2 separate regions of the Homo sapiens genome follow, and region 1 is linked to region 2. Evidence: fine-mapped expression QTL. A gene starts in region 2. The other region holds a variant in brackets. All regions are shown on one strand. Distances are from middle to middle.

Region 1 (8,522 bases), 110 kb before region 2:
TGCCTACAGTTGGCAGAGACCATCTGTTCTCTCACTGTCAGGAACTGTCTCAATTCTTGAAGTTCAGAGTCAAAAAAGAAGCAAGTTTTCCTAGCTCTTTGATCAACTTTCAAAGTTTTACTTCCATTTGAAAATTTACTAAGTCACCAGGAGATGGTTTATACTGAGAAATATCCACTCATACTCTTCCTCTTCAACTTTCTTCCATATACACCCTATTACAGGGATATAGTCTTACTCTATAGCTCAAAAGGATGACCCTATCAGAAACCTGCACAGTATGTAAAACATTCTCACCAGAGGTTCACTTGTGTATTTCCACCCTAGAATGGAAGCTCTACAAAAGCACAGAATGTATCATTTTAACTTTAGATTCTATTTTCACACCCAGTGCTTGACACATGATTTGAAGTTAATATTTATTTATCAAGTGATTGTTTTAAAATCATGACTCACTCAACAAAGTTATAAGAATAAGAATAGTGTTACAGAATTGGTATACACAAGCTGACCATAATCAACACACCTATTATCATTTTTTTGCGACAGGTTCTCGCTGTCTCACCCTGGCTGGAGTGGAGTGGCATGACCACGGTTCACTGCAGGTTTGAACTTCCAGGCTCAAGCAATCCTCCCACCTCAGCCTCCCACATAGCTGAGCCCACAGGTGTGTGCCACCATGTCCAGCTAACTTTTTAATTCTTTGTAGAGACAGGGTCACCCTATGTTGCCCAAGCTGGTCTTGAACTCCTTGGCTAGAGAGATCCTCCCTCCAAGGTCCCCCAAAATGCTGGGATCTCAGGCAAGAGCCACCATGCCTGGCCATAATCAATACACTTTTAAGAATGCTAGAATGTTATATCAGATGCATACTTCAGCACTATCTCAAGCAAACTGGGGTGTGGGTTATTCTACATATAAAGTTCAGCAGTGTTGTTCCACAGTCCCAAACTCCAACTGAGGTCAAATGTAGGGTGCAGCAAGGTCACTGGGGCTGTCATCAAGGGCCTCTCCTTGCACTCTTGCCAACCCTGTTTCTTGATTGTCTCTACCACCATGAGTCACCAGCAATCTCCCACAGTCACTTGTTTAAAAGTTCACAAGTATTGTGTGAATTGCAGGCAACCCCTTGACTCCCTGATTGCCTGGTCTTCTTCCTTGGGCTCTACCATTTTTTTTCCCCAGCACTCTTTCTGCTGCTCTAAATTTTAATTCATGCAATTCCATATGTGTTTCTCTATCATTCTTCATCTCTTTCCTCTCCCTTCCATCCAATTTTGTTTGTCTGTTTGCTTGCTTGCTTGCTTTAATACATTTCTCTTTTTCTGAGAAGGCTTGAGTCCAAAACTCTCAGTTACCTGTTGTTCTGTTTCCCGTTAGTTAATCTCCGAACCTTCATAAATTAAATCTGACAAAGTCCCCTGACTAACAAAGGAAATGCACAAGTCACAGTAAAAGGGGCACACACAGAACACAAATAGACCCAGGGTCTTTTCTGTTCATCACTCAGCTTTTTATAGGAGATCCAGGAGAAATGAAGTGGAAAGGGAAGTGTGTTGAGTTACTATACAACACAAGAGTAAACTTTCTTATAAGTGGTAATTTTTTTTTACAGGAATAATTGAAAATGGAAATTACCTTCTCTACTCATAGTAAGTACTCAGTGCGTTCTTGATGGGATGAGAATGTGTTTGAGCTTTAGTGTAAGGCAGAATTCTGTTTAGTCTGCCAGTATTGGAGAAAAATAAAACACAAAGGGACTGACATGTAGGAAGTGGCACCTGGGAGGGTCTCAATTCTTCCTATTACAAAAATGCCCCAGAGAAATAAAAAGCTTGTGTACATGTTGAGATGGGAGAGTTCTCTGGCCCCCCTCGCAGGATGTGTGACAGTGGGGTGGCTCTCTGCTGCGCCACCATGAGCTCAAACCCCTCATAGGAGGGGGAGCACACAGGCAGGAAGGTGCAGGAGCTGGGCGAGCTCTTTGGGCTCTGGCCCCGTGGTACTGTCTAGAGGTGGGTGCCTGCAACTCCTGAAAGCCCAAGTGGGCATGTGTTACAGTGCACTCTTTCAGCTTTGCTGTCTGCAGCTTAAGCGTTAACCAGCTCAGTTTCTTCTTGGTACCCAGGTCCTTGTCTGGCATCCAGGAAGAATCAGGTTACACATGGACTTGAAGGATGAATGTGGGAGTTTTATGGAGTGGTGGAGGTGGCTCTCAGTGGGATGGATGGGGAGCTGGAAGGGGGATGGAGTGGGAAGATGATATTCTCCTGGAGTTTGGCTGTCCAGCAGCCGATCTCCTCTCCAGTCGTCCCCAGCCTCTCGACGTTCAGATGCTCCTCTTCTCTCCTTCTCTGCCATGCTGTTCTGCCGTTCATCTGCCTGTCTCTCTCTGGAGCCTGGAATTTGGGGTTTATATGGTACACAATAAGGGGCATGGCAGGCCAAAAGGGAACTTTTTAGGTGCAAAAAACAGGAATGCCTCTTCTCACTTAGGGCTATAGATTTTCAGGCTTGAAGGTGGGGCCTTTACCAGCGAACCTGTATTTCCCTGTCTCCTGTGCATATCAATGTAATCAAATACTGGGCTGATCCAGGATGTTTCTTTAGACCAATTATGGGTAAAATAATTTACATTCAGGTTTTTATATTTGCTTTTGTCATTTCTTTTTAAGCAATCATGTAAAATATCTATACGACAGTAATAGATGATAGCGAACCTAATTAAAATTACCAGAAACTTAAGAATCTCTAATGATTTCAACTGTAACTAAGGTTATTTCTCTTTATGTTGAACAATGTTGGGAGATAAGACACAAGAGTTTCTGAAGTATTTCAGAAACACAAAGAGGGAGGTTATATAAATAATATTTTTTTCCTACTTTGGGAAAATGAAAGCTAGTCACAAAGTTAAACGAGTGGTTATTTTAATATTTAAAATACAGGCTTGGATGTATTTCCTGTTAAAGAAAATAAAATGCAGAATATTCAAAACGTCTGACCACCCTTCTAAGAAAATGCATCTCTGAGGTATTTTTCCTTAGAAGTTATTGTAAAAATCCTGGAGAAGCTTGAACACAGCAAAGCAAACAGGATGCAGAGTTTAATCTGTGGAAAGCTTAGGGAAGAAAAGCAAATCATTAAAAATAGGTCTTCCTCTGAAGATTTTTAAAACGCAAAGAGGGTGGAATAGCAATGATAATAAAAAAGCTGGCATAGAGAGTGGCACAATTTGCTGTGCCACTGAGCTGACTGGATGTGTTCTGAATTTCTAGGCATTAGTGTACCTTTCCACACGCATTCTCCCTTTAAAAAAAATGCCCACACACTGAATACTTTTTTCATGCAATTTAAAATAAGCGCACCATCTAGTTTACAGAAATTCACTAGAAGTTATTTATCCTAAAATAGCAGAGATCTAGAAGAATTTTGAGCTCTAGGACATTTTAGACACACAGAAAGAAGAATCTGGACAAGTCTTGACCAGACATGACAGAATAGAAATTTCTTTTCCTATTTATCTCTTTGAATAAAATTTTCAGGATCTTACAGTGGACAAGTTTGTTATCTACACATTGTGAAGCACATTGATTTCTCCTCTGTAGCCTTAGGAAGATCTGAGAGGTGACTGAGCTGATTGAATGATCCGTGACCGCTCTACTGGGACCAGTAGTAGAACTTTACTGGTGGAGACCTGCTGGAGGTTTGAGAGCAGACTTTGAAAATTACTAGAGCTACACAGATACTGTGTGGCTAACTGGATTATGTTTAGAGGCTTTCAGAACTATGCTGCTGCTGCTGCAGTGTAGCCAGGACGCACAGAGAACATCTAAGGCTCTTGAATGGGGCGATAGGGACAGATTTCAGCAGCCATCTGACTTCAGTGCTCATTTTGATGCTTTCCCTGCAGGGTGCAGTGTGCAGTGTGCAGTGTGCAGTGGTGGGAGGCTCACACAGGAATACTTGCTTCTGTAGCCCTAATTTCCGGTTCAAACTCTGCATTCACCTTGACAGATTCTTTCCTTGGCCAAAATTTAGTTAGGCTTCTGGGCTTTCTCTTATGCCCACCTGCAGACTTTTTGGTAAAATCCAGTTTTAGTAAAGAGCTCTGCTAAGTCAGTTTAGCAAGAATCCCCACCTCAAAAGTCACTATCTCCCTCCCTGGTAGTGTCTGGCTTGTCTTCAGCGAGAATTCTATTAGGTTCTGTTAGATTAGAATCCTCCTTACCCTTGATGCTTCCTCTTAGTATTTTTTCATCCACTGACTCCTTGACCCACCTTGCTCCTCGGCTATAAATTCCCACTTGCCCATACTCTGCAGTTAAGACTATTTTCTCCCCACTACTGCAAAATCCCATTGCCATGGTCCCTATACTATCTCAATGGTAATGAATAAAGTCTGCCTTACCATGCTTTAACAAGTAACATTGAACCATTTTTTTCTTTAACAATCTGCTGCACAATGAGATTACTAAAACTTTATTCCATTTTGCCATGCTGGATGTCCTCAATGGAATGGCTCTTGTGAGCACCAAATCATTGTGAGAAGGAAAACCCATCTCTTACAGCCCCCTGTAACGTGATGTATGTTACATGTGATGTATGTTACATAGTTTTTTTTCATGTTGATCACTTTTTGCCCATTTTCCTATATCTTATCAGTTGGAAGACTGTGGAAGTTTGTAGTACTAAGCCACAAGATGACTAAGAAGAGTTGAAAGGGCAAGTGGGGCTAAAAACAGATTTTGTTTGACTTACCCCACCATTCCCCCTATCATGGGGCTGAATCTGCCTGGAGGAAGGAGCATCTTTATCTTTGTACTGTGAACCACACAGTCTAGCAGCAGCACAGCCAAGGCACTTGGGGTTTCATGAGACTAAGTACATGCAATTCTATTGTAAAGGCTTAAAATATATACAACTGACCCTTGAACAACATGAATTTGAATTGCATGGTCAGTTATACGCAGATTTTCTTCCACCTCTGCCACCCCTGAGACAGTAAGATCAATCAATCCTCTTCCTCCTACTCCTCAGTCTACTCAAAGATACTTGAAGTCTACTTGAAGATGACAAGCACAAAGACATTTATGATGATCCACTTCCACTTAGTGAATAGTAAATATGTTTTCTCTTCCTCCTAATTTTTTAACACTTTCTTCTCTCTAGCTTAATTTATTGTTAAGAATACAATCTATAATACATATGACATACAAAATATGTCTTAGTTGACTGTTTATGTTATCTGTAAGGCTTCAGGTCAAGAGTATGCTAT[T/A]AGTGGTTAAGTTTTCGAGGAGTCAAAAGGTGTATGTGGACTTTCAACTGCAGGGGGGTGGGCACCCCTGCCCCCATGTTGTTCAAGGGTCAACTTTACTGCCAAAGGCAAGCCTTTACATCCACTTTTTCCATCCCATCAGTAAATGGAAAAAGATAGCTACAGTATCCCTGCGTCAAATCTTTTTTTTTGCAGATCACAAATTGGCCACTCACCTTGCTCTGTGAGGGGTAAAATGCCCCACTTTCTTTAGTAATATTTAAGTTAGATAATATTTAAGTTATAAAGTTGTTCTTTGTAATCGTTAATTGTAATTTTTACATAGTTTCTTTCAAACAGAAATAGCATTTTTGTTAGATAACCTCCCGTATAGATGATGAAACTCCTTTTAAGGGCTATCTGAATTTTAATTCCTTGAAAAGGCAGAAATTGGATAGCTAGTAGTCATAAATGTACTGTGGCTTCCCCCAACCATCTGGGCTATATAGAAGCTGCATCCTTGGACTGCAGTAGAGGAGTCTTACAAAGCACAGAGCAACTTCTCTCCTGGGTTGCGCTAGTTATGATGGCAATTTTAAATGTGTACTTTTACCCAAAGAAAATCCTTATTATCAACAATCACAATGCCATCATAACCATGGTATAAAAAATTCAAAATGTCCCAGCTGAAGTGGAGGCAAAGACTCAAGTTCATGGAGTCAGAGTTTCCTTGCTATTCCTCTTTTTCAAATGACCATTTAGTAAGCACCTGAAGAAAATACTATGGACGGCATTGAAAAGTGAAGATAGGTTTAATCTTCTCGAAAATCTAATTCTCCAGATGAAACGCTGACACTTATCCACCCCACAGACCCTATAGCAGATGTGTCACTGGCCATCACATTTGACACAGAGAAGTCATAACTCAGTCAGCACAGAGACATTTCCATGAGTTTCTGAACCATGGACAGAACGTCGTCTGTGGGACATGAAAACTGGAACTTAGAGGACAGGCACATCTGAGAAATGGGCAGTTTAAAGGCAGAACATAGCACATATGTGACTGGGTTTTAGAAGCAAATTTACAAGACGCACTCTTCTTCATCCTAAATAATCTGCAACCAAAGCTTCCAAAAAAGACAATTTAGGAATGCAGAGGTGAGGAGTAGGGAGGGGAATGGGATGAGAGAGAGTGGAGATTAATGGTGGGCAGAGCGAGGTTTAGAACTTAGTGGTTTCTTCAGGTTCTGAACTGAAATTTGTATACTGTAAAGGCACAAACACCATTTTTAACAAAAGTGAGCAGGACTTCCTATCTGGTTCAGAAAATAGGTGAATAAATAGTACGAATTATTAAAAATAATAATTTCCACTTATACATAGGAAACTTGATAGGAACCATGATAAATGCTTAACTCTTAATCTTCAAGGAACTCTGCTAGGGATATAATATTATAAATCTTGTTTTGCAGATGGAGAAATTGAATTTTAACCCAAGTTATCATAACCCTTAAATGATTAAATGATACTGTTACATGAGAAAGCTGCGTATCTGTTTCCTGGATTTGTAGCCATAATTTGTGTCTCAAGTCCCTTTTGCTGCCAGCTATCTTGGGTAGGTGTGTTCCCTTTGGGCTGTTTGATACCCCCACATTTATCTTTTTTTTTTCTCTTTTTTTGTTGAGAGAGTCTTTCCCTGTTGCCTAGGCTGGAGGGCAATGGCGCGATCTCGGCTCACTGCAACCTCCGCCTCCTGGGTTCAAGTGCTTCTCACGATTCTCTTGTCCCAGCCTCTCTAATAGCTCGGATTACTGGCATGCACCACCACGCCCACCTAATTTTGTATTTTTAGTAGACAAGGGGTTTCTCCATGTTGGTCAGGGTGGTCTCAAACTCCTGACCTCAGGTGATCTGCCTGCCTTGGCCTCCCAAAGTGCTGGGATTACAGGTGTGAGCCACCATGCCTGGCCCCAAATTTATCTTTAATGCCCCAAATTATCTAGTTCCCATGACTGGGCTTCTGCTTTGATCCTTTCTGCACTTGCTGGACCCTCTCCCTGGGAAATGAGATTGTGTCCTGAGCCCCTAGTTAGAGGCTATGTCTCTGCTGTTCCTGAATGGGCCTCCTGGATGAGACCTCATTAAAAGTCTAATTCTCTTGGAGAATTGAGAGATACCTATTTGTCTCAAAATCATTGAAACCAATTAATGTATTATGAGCCTCTATCCAGTGATTTGTACCTCAATTCCCCAATCCAGCTGTCAAGGCCAATTTGTTCTACCTTACCTAGTAGGTAAGTCTGGAATTGTAGCTGTGGCATTTTCAGTAATGGTACTCTAGGTTAGCAGTCCCCAACCTTTTTGGCACCAGGGACCAGTTTTGTGGAAGACAATTTTTCCATGAAGGGCTGGGCAGGGGAGTGGTTTCAGGATGAAACTGTTCCACCTCAGATCATCAGGCATTAGATTCTCACAAGGAGTGCGCAAGCTAGATCCCTCACACATGCAGTTCACAATAGGGTGTGCACTCCCATGAGAATCTAACACCGCTGCTGATCTGACAGGAGACAGAGCTCAGGCAGTAATACTCATTTGCCTACCGCTCACCTCCTGCCGTGCAGCTCAGTTCCTAACAGGCCACGGACCAGTACTGGTCCACGGCGCAGGCATCAGGGACCCCTGTTGCTAGGTATAAGCATCTGGCTGCTGCATGTCTTCTGTGTAGCTACATCTGTATGTGTATCTGATGAGATATAAATTATTTGATTATAAATTACTTTCTTCATATTAGAGTTGTGAATGAGTATCACATATAATTATACATAAACTAGGAATATGCTTTTTAATAATGTATATAAGTAAGTTTCCTTAACTATGACTTTCATCTTAGCGTAGTAAGAGGGTGCTAAGAAATATTTGTGATGAAAATAGGCATTGGTAGAGTTGAGACCACTGGGTGATGAAAGAGTGTAAAGATTTTAAAGCCTTCAGATGCTGGTTCAAGGTGAGAAATGTGATTGGGAGCAAATCAATTAACTTCTTGAAGTCTTATAGGGCAGTTATGAATACTTAATGTTAACATATGTAAAGCTCTTCTGCCCTGTATACAGTAAATGCTAGTTAGCTATTATGATCACTACTAAAATGGGGATGACATAAACCTCATAAGGTTTTAAGTATTATGCAAGATACTATACAAAGTCCAGTAAATATCACATTCAATTGAATCCATGATGTCCGATTATTTTAGCTACTTCCAAGAGAGAAA
Region 2 (8,522 bases):
ACTGTGAGAGGCTTGCATTCTGAAGACAGTGGCTATCACAGAGTTCCAACCAGGACTGCAGTTTCAGAACTGTCAGATCATGCCACTTATCGTGAGGAACCAAGAGCCTGAATAGTTTTGTGGAAATCTCCATATTTTTCAATGTTGAATCAAATGTTTTCTAAACCTATATAGGCCAAACAACGTATGTCTGAAAAATCTGTGGCAGTCAGTTTTCAGTGGTGGCTTTACCATAATATAAAAATTAGAAAATAGAGTTCTTACTAACTCTGGCAATGTAGAAAGCAAACTGCTACAAATACGGCCAATAATTCTATGTAGGCCTTTAAAAATTTGTTTAAAATCTGTATTCTTTGGACAAATATAAACTCAATAATCATTACACATTGACCCTCTACTTGGAATTTTTCCCCACTTCGGTGAAATTCCATACAACACCTTCTACACTGGGTATGTAATGCTGCTCAAAACACATGCCTAGAACAAAATTTAAAGTGCCTACCGATCCACAACCATCGTTATATAAGAAACACATGTATAAAGGCTAAAGCTATCTAAAATTGAAGATTTTCAAAATCTAAAAATGTTGCTGAGAATAAGAACTAAATCTGCTTTGTAACAAATTCACTGAATTCCTACCTACCTGGCAATGTATCTTTCTTAAAAATGACAGAGAAGCAAAAAACAGTACTAAAAGAAATGCCAAGTATGGCAACTATGGTAACATTCACCTTTCTACTGGGACTACAAATAAAAAGTTTATGTGGGACCATGGGTAAAAGCAACAATGCTAATCCCTCTGTTCTGGAGATAGAGTGCTGGCCAGATTGTCACAACCTCCTGCTGAGTAGGGAGGATTATGCTTAGCACTTGATCTTGCCACCTCTTCTTGGGCACAGTTAATGTTGGCAGGTACCTATCCTGGGCCAAAGGGCGGTTAATTCACAAATTAGCCATCAATTTCATGGCCTGAGTGAAGAGATAAACTGGCCAGATCATTGTCTCCCCCAGGAATTTGAACTAAGAACAATTTTTGCCTATTAGAAGCATAGCCGAAGGTAGAAGGATGCTATGAGGTGGAGGTGGAGCTACGGCAAACCAAAGCCACATGAAGTCAGAAACTTTCCAGAGGAAGTCAGTTGGTAGTAAAATTTTAAAAAGCAAACACTGGGACCGTAGCTTAGTCATACTTAGGGGGCACATTACTACTATCCATCTCAAGACTACCGGAAGCCCAGCCTCAAATCTAATTCCACCCAGATACCCTAACATCCCATTGACACCCTTACAACCAGCCCCCTTTTCCTCAGGTAACTTGAATGGGTCTATGTTCTTTGAAACTAATTGCCATTTCATAGGCAGAAAGCTCTACTTGGTCTCCAACTCCTGCCTGAAAAGCCAGTCAGACTGGAAGAGTGAGTTACAGAAGTGTTACTTTGAAAGTATCTGAAGCTAGTCTGACCGTCTCTCTCTCACCCACAAAACACAGCTTTCCAAAATCAACACACAATTAAGAGAAAAGCAGAGAATAAGGGACTGTATATTAATGAATATCTTCTTCGCAGGAAATCATGCTGTTTATTTAAGTGTTAATATTAATCCTCATGGGAGATAAGACTGCCACCAGGATTCAGGGTCAGTGCTCTGGCTGATGAATGGCAGTCACCAGAGGCAAGAGAAAGGAACATTTAATTTACTTAGCTATTTCTAAATAGCAAAATACTTCCTTGTGGGAACATTGGCCTTGCAATAGCTATTAACCTTAGATTTCATATGAATTCCACTATAATTAACAAAGTTATAAAAGCATTAGGAAGTAGTTAAAATTCATTTTTCTTACTGTATTTTAGGTCTAAGACTAAAAAAATCACTTAAAAATTAAAAAGGGATGACTCAATTTCTTGAGAGAACTGGAAAGGATGCCATTTTCTTGTTTTGAAAGCATGTTAACTTTGACAGAAGTCCACTGATACCATCAGTGTAATACTGACAGTGGTAAGATTATATTGTATGTTCCCAGTGCAAACTTTATTGGGGGAAAATTAAAAAGGTGTGCTGATTATTGCAATTTGAGAATGTTTTGAAGCAGTAATTCTTCACACTAATATATCTAAAGAAGCACAAATACTGTTATATGAAGAAGTTTTTTTGTTTGTTTTTTGTTTTAAATAGAGATATGGTCTTGTTCTGTTGCTGCTGGCCTAGAGTGCATTGGCGCTATCCTATCTCACTGTAACCTGGAATTCCTGGGCTCAAGCTACCTGCCCTCCCCAGCCTCCCTAGTTGCTGAGATTACAGGCATGTGCCACCATGCCCGCCAGTGCTTTAAAAATGATAATTCAGCTAAAATTGATTTATTGAAATGTAAGAAAAACACTTGGCCTTCCAAAATGCTTTCCTGTTGTTTTGAGGACGGGGAAAACACAAAATCTTGCTCATTAGCTTTGAAATTAAAAAGTCACAAGAAGGTAGAAAAGGATATCCTAGTATCCCGTAATAGGTATTTCGTAGCACTTAGCATCTCCACTCTATAATAAAATGCTGAGTTGACAGTCTCTGACTTGAATATGCATCAGTCTTCCCTTTAATAATCTCCCTCCACTCTTTTGCCTACTTGGGCAGCACATAAAATTTCTGGACCGCTTGTAGATTAAGAAAACCCTTGTCTAGGTCAAAGGGCAACTCATACACTCAACTAAGAAACCCGTGTGCTCTATGGAAATGTTTCTACCAAATATTTTCTTTTCCCAGCAATTACTCGAGACTACCTTGGTCCTAGCTCCCTTAGCTTGAAAGTTCCAAAGATAATGGCTTGCACTCTGAGTATTAAGGATGCACTGTACTGGCTGATATTCTGGTATCCAGCGGTAACGTTACTCCGGCCCTTGCTTTCGTGTTTCAGGTATATATTCCCTCTGCGGAACTCAGTCCAGCATTGCTAGCTGACAAGCAATACACAATTAAGTCTTTATGGACCAAAATAATTGTGATTTCAGCTCAAGATACATTTTATAAGAACATGGGTCCCTAAAAACAGCAGTTAACAGTGACCCCCAAAATTCGAGACCCGACTCCGAGAATTTCACATGGATTCCTGAATATGCTCTTCCGAGAAATGTTTCATCTTTATTCTAAACAGAAAGCACTATGCCAAGACAGGAGCCAGCTGGGCCTTGGGGGACGGGCACTGGTCTTGGATCAAGAATGAGGCCGCCTTCCCGAGGGCGGGCGCGCCCCCAGGATCCCCCCGGGCTCGGGCACTGCCGCCCCGGGACAGTGACCCGCCCAGCCGAGCACCCTCGCCCTGCTTGCCGCGACCCCGCGGGGTCACTGAAGGGCCGAGGCGCCGCTCTCGCTTCGCTGGCCCCTCACCTTCCACACCTCCCTGCGAGGACCGACTCCGCGGCCGCCTTGGAGAGCTCTGGCCGCGGGCGCCTCACCCGTCGGGGGCCGCCCGCGAAGCGCAGATTACAGGGCGCCCCACAATCAGCAAGGGGAGGCTGCTCCGAAGCTGAGAGCACAGCTCAACCGGCCGCCGGCGCCGCGCCGAGCTCGCTCCCGCGCGGGCCCCAGAGCGCAGACCCGCGAGCGGGGCGCGCGCCCGCCGCCTCCTCCCCGCCCGGCCCCTTCCCCCACGGCGCAGTCCTGCAAGGACTGGGGGCGCAGCGCAGGGCTCCCTGTTACCTGCAGGAAGGCGGCGGGGGAGGAGGCCGAGGGTCTTGGCTCTGGTACCCTGTTGGCCCCCCTGTTGACACCAACCACCCCTGCCTGCCTGTAAGGCTGTGGCCACTACACCCACAATCTTCTGGGGGCCGGGTTTCTCCTACACCATAGAGACGGGTCCGGAAACGGGACAGAAGGCCCACCTTCCTCCCTCCGACGCCACCAATGAGGCCAACTAACCAGGAACCGAGGTAGAGAGGCCGCACAGCTGAGTCTCAGGCCGGTGCCATCTTAAGTGTGGGCGCCGCGACGATACCGAGTTTCACTCACTGCCCCAGTGGTCTAGTTAGTCCACGAAGATGCCCCCTTTCTAGATGTGTTGGTCGAATGCTTAAGTTTGTCTTGACTTGAATTTTTAGGCTTTTAACAGCACAGTTTTAATTTCATTTCCGCCCAAATCCAAAATGGCTGCTGGCCACTTGTAGCAAACAGTAGAGGTGCAGGGCGGAGAAAAGGAGTACGGGAATTAGCGAGGACTTTCAGGAGAGTGACGTCACTCAACCTGTAGCTTTGATTGGCTGGGCTGCGAGGGTGGAGTCGTGCAGAGCCGCTGCTGGCGGAGGTCGTGGTGATCTCGCTTGATCTTTGAGAGGGAAGGTCCTGAATCACATTTCATTTAGCAAAAAGTAATATTTGAAAATTTTAATATTAATGCAGTAGTTTTGCCCCCCTCCATGCTTTCTGCAGTGTCAGTTACCTGTGGTCAAACCTTGGTTCAGAAATGTTAAATGGAAAACTCCAGAAATAAACAATTCTTAAGTTTCAAACCGCCTGTATTCTGAGTAGCCCGATTAAATCTCGGGCCATCCACTCTGTCCCACCCTTGACGCGAATCATCTGTCGCAGGTAGCCGCGCTGTGTACAGTATCCACTCATTACCCACTCAGTAGCTGCTTTGGTTAACAGATGCACCCGTAGTATAGCAGAGATAATGAGAGATACCACCTGCTTATGTTCAGGTAACCCTTATTTTACTTAATAATGGCCGCAAAGCACAGGAATTGTGCTGACAATTTGGATATGCCGAGGAGAAGCTGTAAAGTGCTTCCTTTAAATGAAAAGGTGAAAGCTCTGGACTTAATAAGGAAAGAAAAAGAGTCATATGCTGAGGTTGCCAAAATCTATGATAAGAACAAATTATCCATGAAATTGTGAAGAAGGAAAAAGATTCGTGCTAGTTAACTAAGCACCTATCATGCACTGTGGCTGTAACTTTTGTAGTTTGAGGTGCAACAGCAAAAGACGGAAAAGGCATTACATTTGTGGGTGGGAGACATGAACAGAAAACGTATTTCAGCTGACCGCAGTAAGTTTTGCCAGAAAGTGTTGAGCCTATAGGAAGACTTAAGAAAGGGATCCCCTGAAATTAGGCACACCAAGCTATTTACTGCAAGTAAGGGATGGCTACACAGATTCAGGAATAGGTTTGGACTGAAAAACATAAAAATAACTGGAGAGGCCACATCTGCTGATGAAGAAGCTGCCACATGTCTGGCAGAGTTGAAGACATTGGTTAAGGAGAAAGGCTTCCAGGAGATTGATGGATAAGTTAGGAAAATCATTCAGGTAGCAATGAAACTGCCTTTGCAAAATTATGACTAAGGCAGTTAAAGAGATCCAATTTAACCAACTCCATCTTGTCCTTAACCTCCATGCTATCCTTGTTCATTCCTGGGCATAGGCTGAACTAACTTTGGAAGGAAATTAGTTTATAATTTACAGTTTAAAACAAAAACAATAAAAGCCCTTTCCCAAAACCAACCTCCTTCTTGCCTGGGGTCTAGACTACCAACATTAGCCACAAGATTAGAAATTATGGTTTGGGAGTCATGCAGCTGGAGGCCACAAGATTCTGACCCTCCCTAAACTGCTCCTGAGATCAGTGCTTCAGATGTTTTGCAGACCCTGCACTTGATGGATCAGCTGGCAACACCCAGATGATAAACTGGCCCATCTGATCTTGTGACCCCCACCCAGAACTGACTCAGTTCAAGAAGACAGTGATGCCCCATAGTTTCATCTCCGACCCAACCAATCAGCACTCCCTGACTTACTGCCCCTCCCCACCCACCAAATTGTCTTTAAAAACTCGACTGCTGGAGGAGACTGATTTGAGTAATAATAAAACTCTGGCCCCCCACACAGCCAGCTCTGCATGAATTCTTTGTCTATTGCAATTCCCCGTCTTGATAAATTGGCTCTATCTAGGCAGACGGCAAGGTGAACCTACTGGGCGGTTATAGCAAGACAAGTTGGTGAAAAAGGATTTGTCAATATGCTTGATGAAGAGGTGGGAGAACATATCAAAGGCCTCACTATCCATTCTGAGGACAGGTTTAACCTTCTCAAACTAGAAGCAGGGCTTAGTCACCCTGGACAGTCTCTAGTTCTGTGCCTCCTCCCACTTCCTCTATGTGGTCAGTCCAGACATCTGCCTTGTATGACCGCCTCTGGTGACCACCTCCCTATCGAACCATCAGGTACAAGCTGCTTGCTTCATCCCCTTGACCCCTATACCCCACATATACTTTGCAGATATGCCTCAGTGACCACCTCTTAGTCACAGTGGGACTAAGATGTTGGACCCAGGACCACAGTGAAGGCTTTGGCCCGCAAGTCCCTCTCTCTGTCTCGTCCCCCTCCCACTGGTTGAGCATGTGTGTCCCCCTTCTCATTGGCCCTGTGAGGCATGCTGTCCTCTTATTATGGATCTGTAAGTAATGAAACTGCTTCTATTATTTCACATGTTTTGTTCACCTCCTCTGTGTCTCACCTGACCTATACACCCACACCTGACTTGTTTCCTGGTTAGGGCTCTCCTAGAGAGTGGCTGTCTTGGTTGGAATAAACCAGACACGGGGCAGACAAGAGCCACAAATGTGCCTGCTAATATAAACAAGCTTCCTGTGAGAGGGACCTCCTGTCATGGGTCAGACACCTAGGATTTAGGCCGTCTGCCAGGATAAAGAAGTATTCCATGGAAGGCACACTGTAAATATCCAAGCCCCATCACGGAAGAGCTAACGTTTATAACCACTCCCAGAGAGAGACCTCGAGACCGAATTAGAAAAGAAATACAACACATAGACCCTAGGTTTACTAGCTCCAACATCCATTCCCACTCCTCACCCCCTTCTCCCTTGTTCACCTTCGATAAAGAAGTTAAGAAATCAAAAAGATCACTTTCTGAGCCTACTTTCCCGCTAGGGTGGTCACAAGTTCTGGCCGGTGAGACATAGCAGAAGTTGGGAGGAAGATAGACAGTGGATTAGGAAAGGTTTTTCCTCCCTATTAAAGGAAATGGCTGTGGGTGTAACAGCAGCAGCCACCCAAGCACCAGGAGACAGCGGGAGAACATGCTGAGGATGTCGATTTGAAAGACAGAAGGATTCTCTTGCCTTTCACACTATCCCTCGAGAGTTCATAACTATGTTTTTCCTCCTTTTACAGGAGGAGTAGAGATGAGTCCCTTCAACCAGTACGTGAAATCTTCTGCAGTCAACACAGCTACTTGCTGGCCCACCCTCTTCCCAGTGTCCTCACCTCTGAGTCTTTGCTGGCCTTCCCACCCTGTTCCTTGCTCCCTAATCTTATGTCCAGATGTGCTGAGCTCCAGGGTATCCTCTATAATCATTCATCAGCCTAGAGGACTCTGTATTTCCTTTCATTTCCCCAAGGTAAACCCACTCCTCCAAATATCAATGAGAAGGGAATATTTTGCAGTGAATGGAGTAGGAGAGAGATGGGAGGGAGTTTGACACTCAGTCCTTCCCCTCTTCACTCTTCATCTACTCACCTATTTGCTCTTGATGTCACTCAGGTCTCTGAACAAATGTCACCTGTTCAGACTCTTAAAGATTTGGGGCATTGAAATCACAGGCTAACTTGTATATTTTTGTCCAACAAAGATGCAAATCTTTCTGTCCAGTGGAAAAGTTAACCCCAAAGTTTATTCTTATTGCACTAGAGAGCATTTCTCATTTTAAAATCTAATCTAGTAATCTTACTGTATTTCTTTATAAAATTGCTTGTAAGTATGTAGCTACACAAATGCTCTTTGAACAGTCTTAATGTCTTTTTAGTTTCCTCATTAACTAATGTGTTCATTTTATATTTGCATGAGAGTTATAATTATATTTTGAAAATTCTACTTGAATGCAATTTATCAGAGACAGCTCCCCTGAAAACACTGTCTAAAACAGCACCTTACCTGCCTCTTCCTGTCTTTTGACTTTGCCTTATTTTGCTTAACACCAATGCACATATTTGTTCAGCATCTCTGTCCCACAGCTAGAACATCAGCTCCCTGAAAACAGGGCTTCCTTCCTTCATTTCTTTCTTTCCTGCCATATTTCTAGCACATAACACAGTGCCTAGAACATACTAGGTACTCAGTAAATATTAAACACACAAATGAATTTACTGAGAGCACACTGCATGTCCCAGGCACCCTCCCTACATCTCTCTGCCTCCCAGCCCTTACCCCACAGAGCCCTCTATAGCTCTGGTTCCAGTTCTCAGTTCCCTGGAGCTGCTCTCTGAGCTCCTTCTGCCTTTCTTATGCATAGAAATCTTGTATTCCCTCACTGATTCCTCAGTCCTCATTTTAAATATGTCTAAGGCCAGGAAAGAAAAGAATCTCCAACAACCTGAATCCGCTGTCCTTGGAATGTGGCTGGTGGGACAGTTAGAAACAAATAGTTTGTTTTCTTAATAGAAATAATTTTTTCTTGTCATACTGTTTAAGGATCAACCTGAATTTTACTTCCAACCAATCCTCTTCTTAATTCAAATCAAAA

What was found. PIP is the estimated chance that this variant, and not a neighbour inherited with it, causes the effect.
Region 1: its variant is fine-mapped to the expression of SCYL3 in whole blood (TOPMed, PIP 0.94).

The regions. Positions count from the first base shown.
Region 1 is chr1:169,783,262-169,791,783 of GRCh38, forward strand. It overlaps a transcript of FIRRM not described here. Among named protein-coding and RNA genes, the nearest start is that of METTL18, 7.4 kb to the right of the region's middle. The variant T/A (reference allele first, on the strand shown) is at 5,276.
Region 2 is chr1:169,890,104-169,898,625 of GRCh38, forward strand. It overlaps SCYL3 (SCY1 like pseudokinase 3), which reads right to left and starts at 3,793. Exons shown (of 13, transcript NM_020423.7): 1 at 3,685-3,793. RefSeq lists enhancers at 2,961-3,548, 3,549-4,136, 3,811-4,220 and silencers at 3,231-3,290, 3,531-3,610.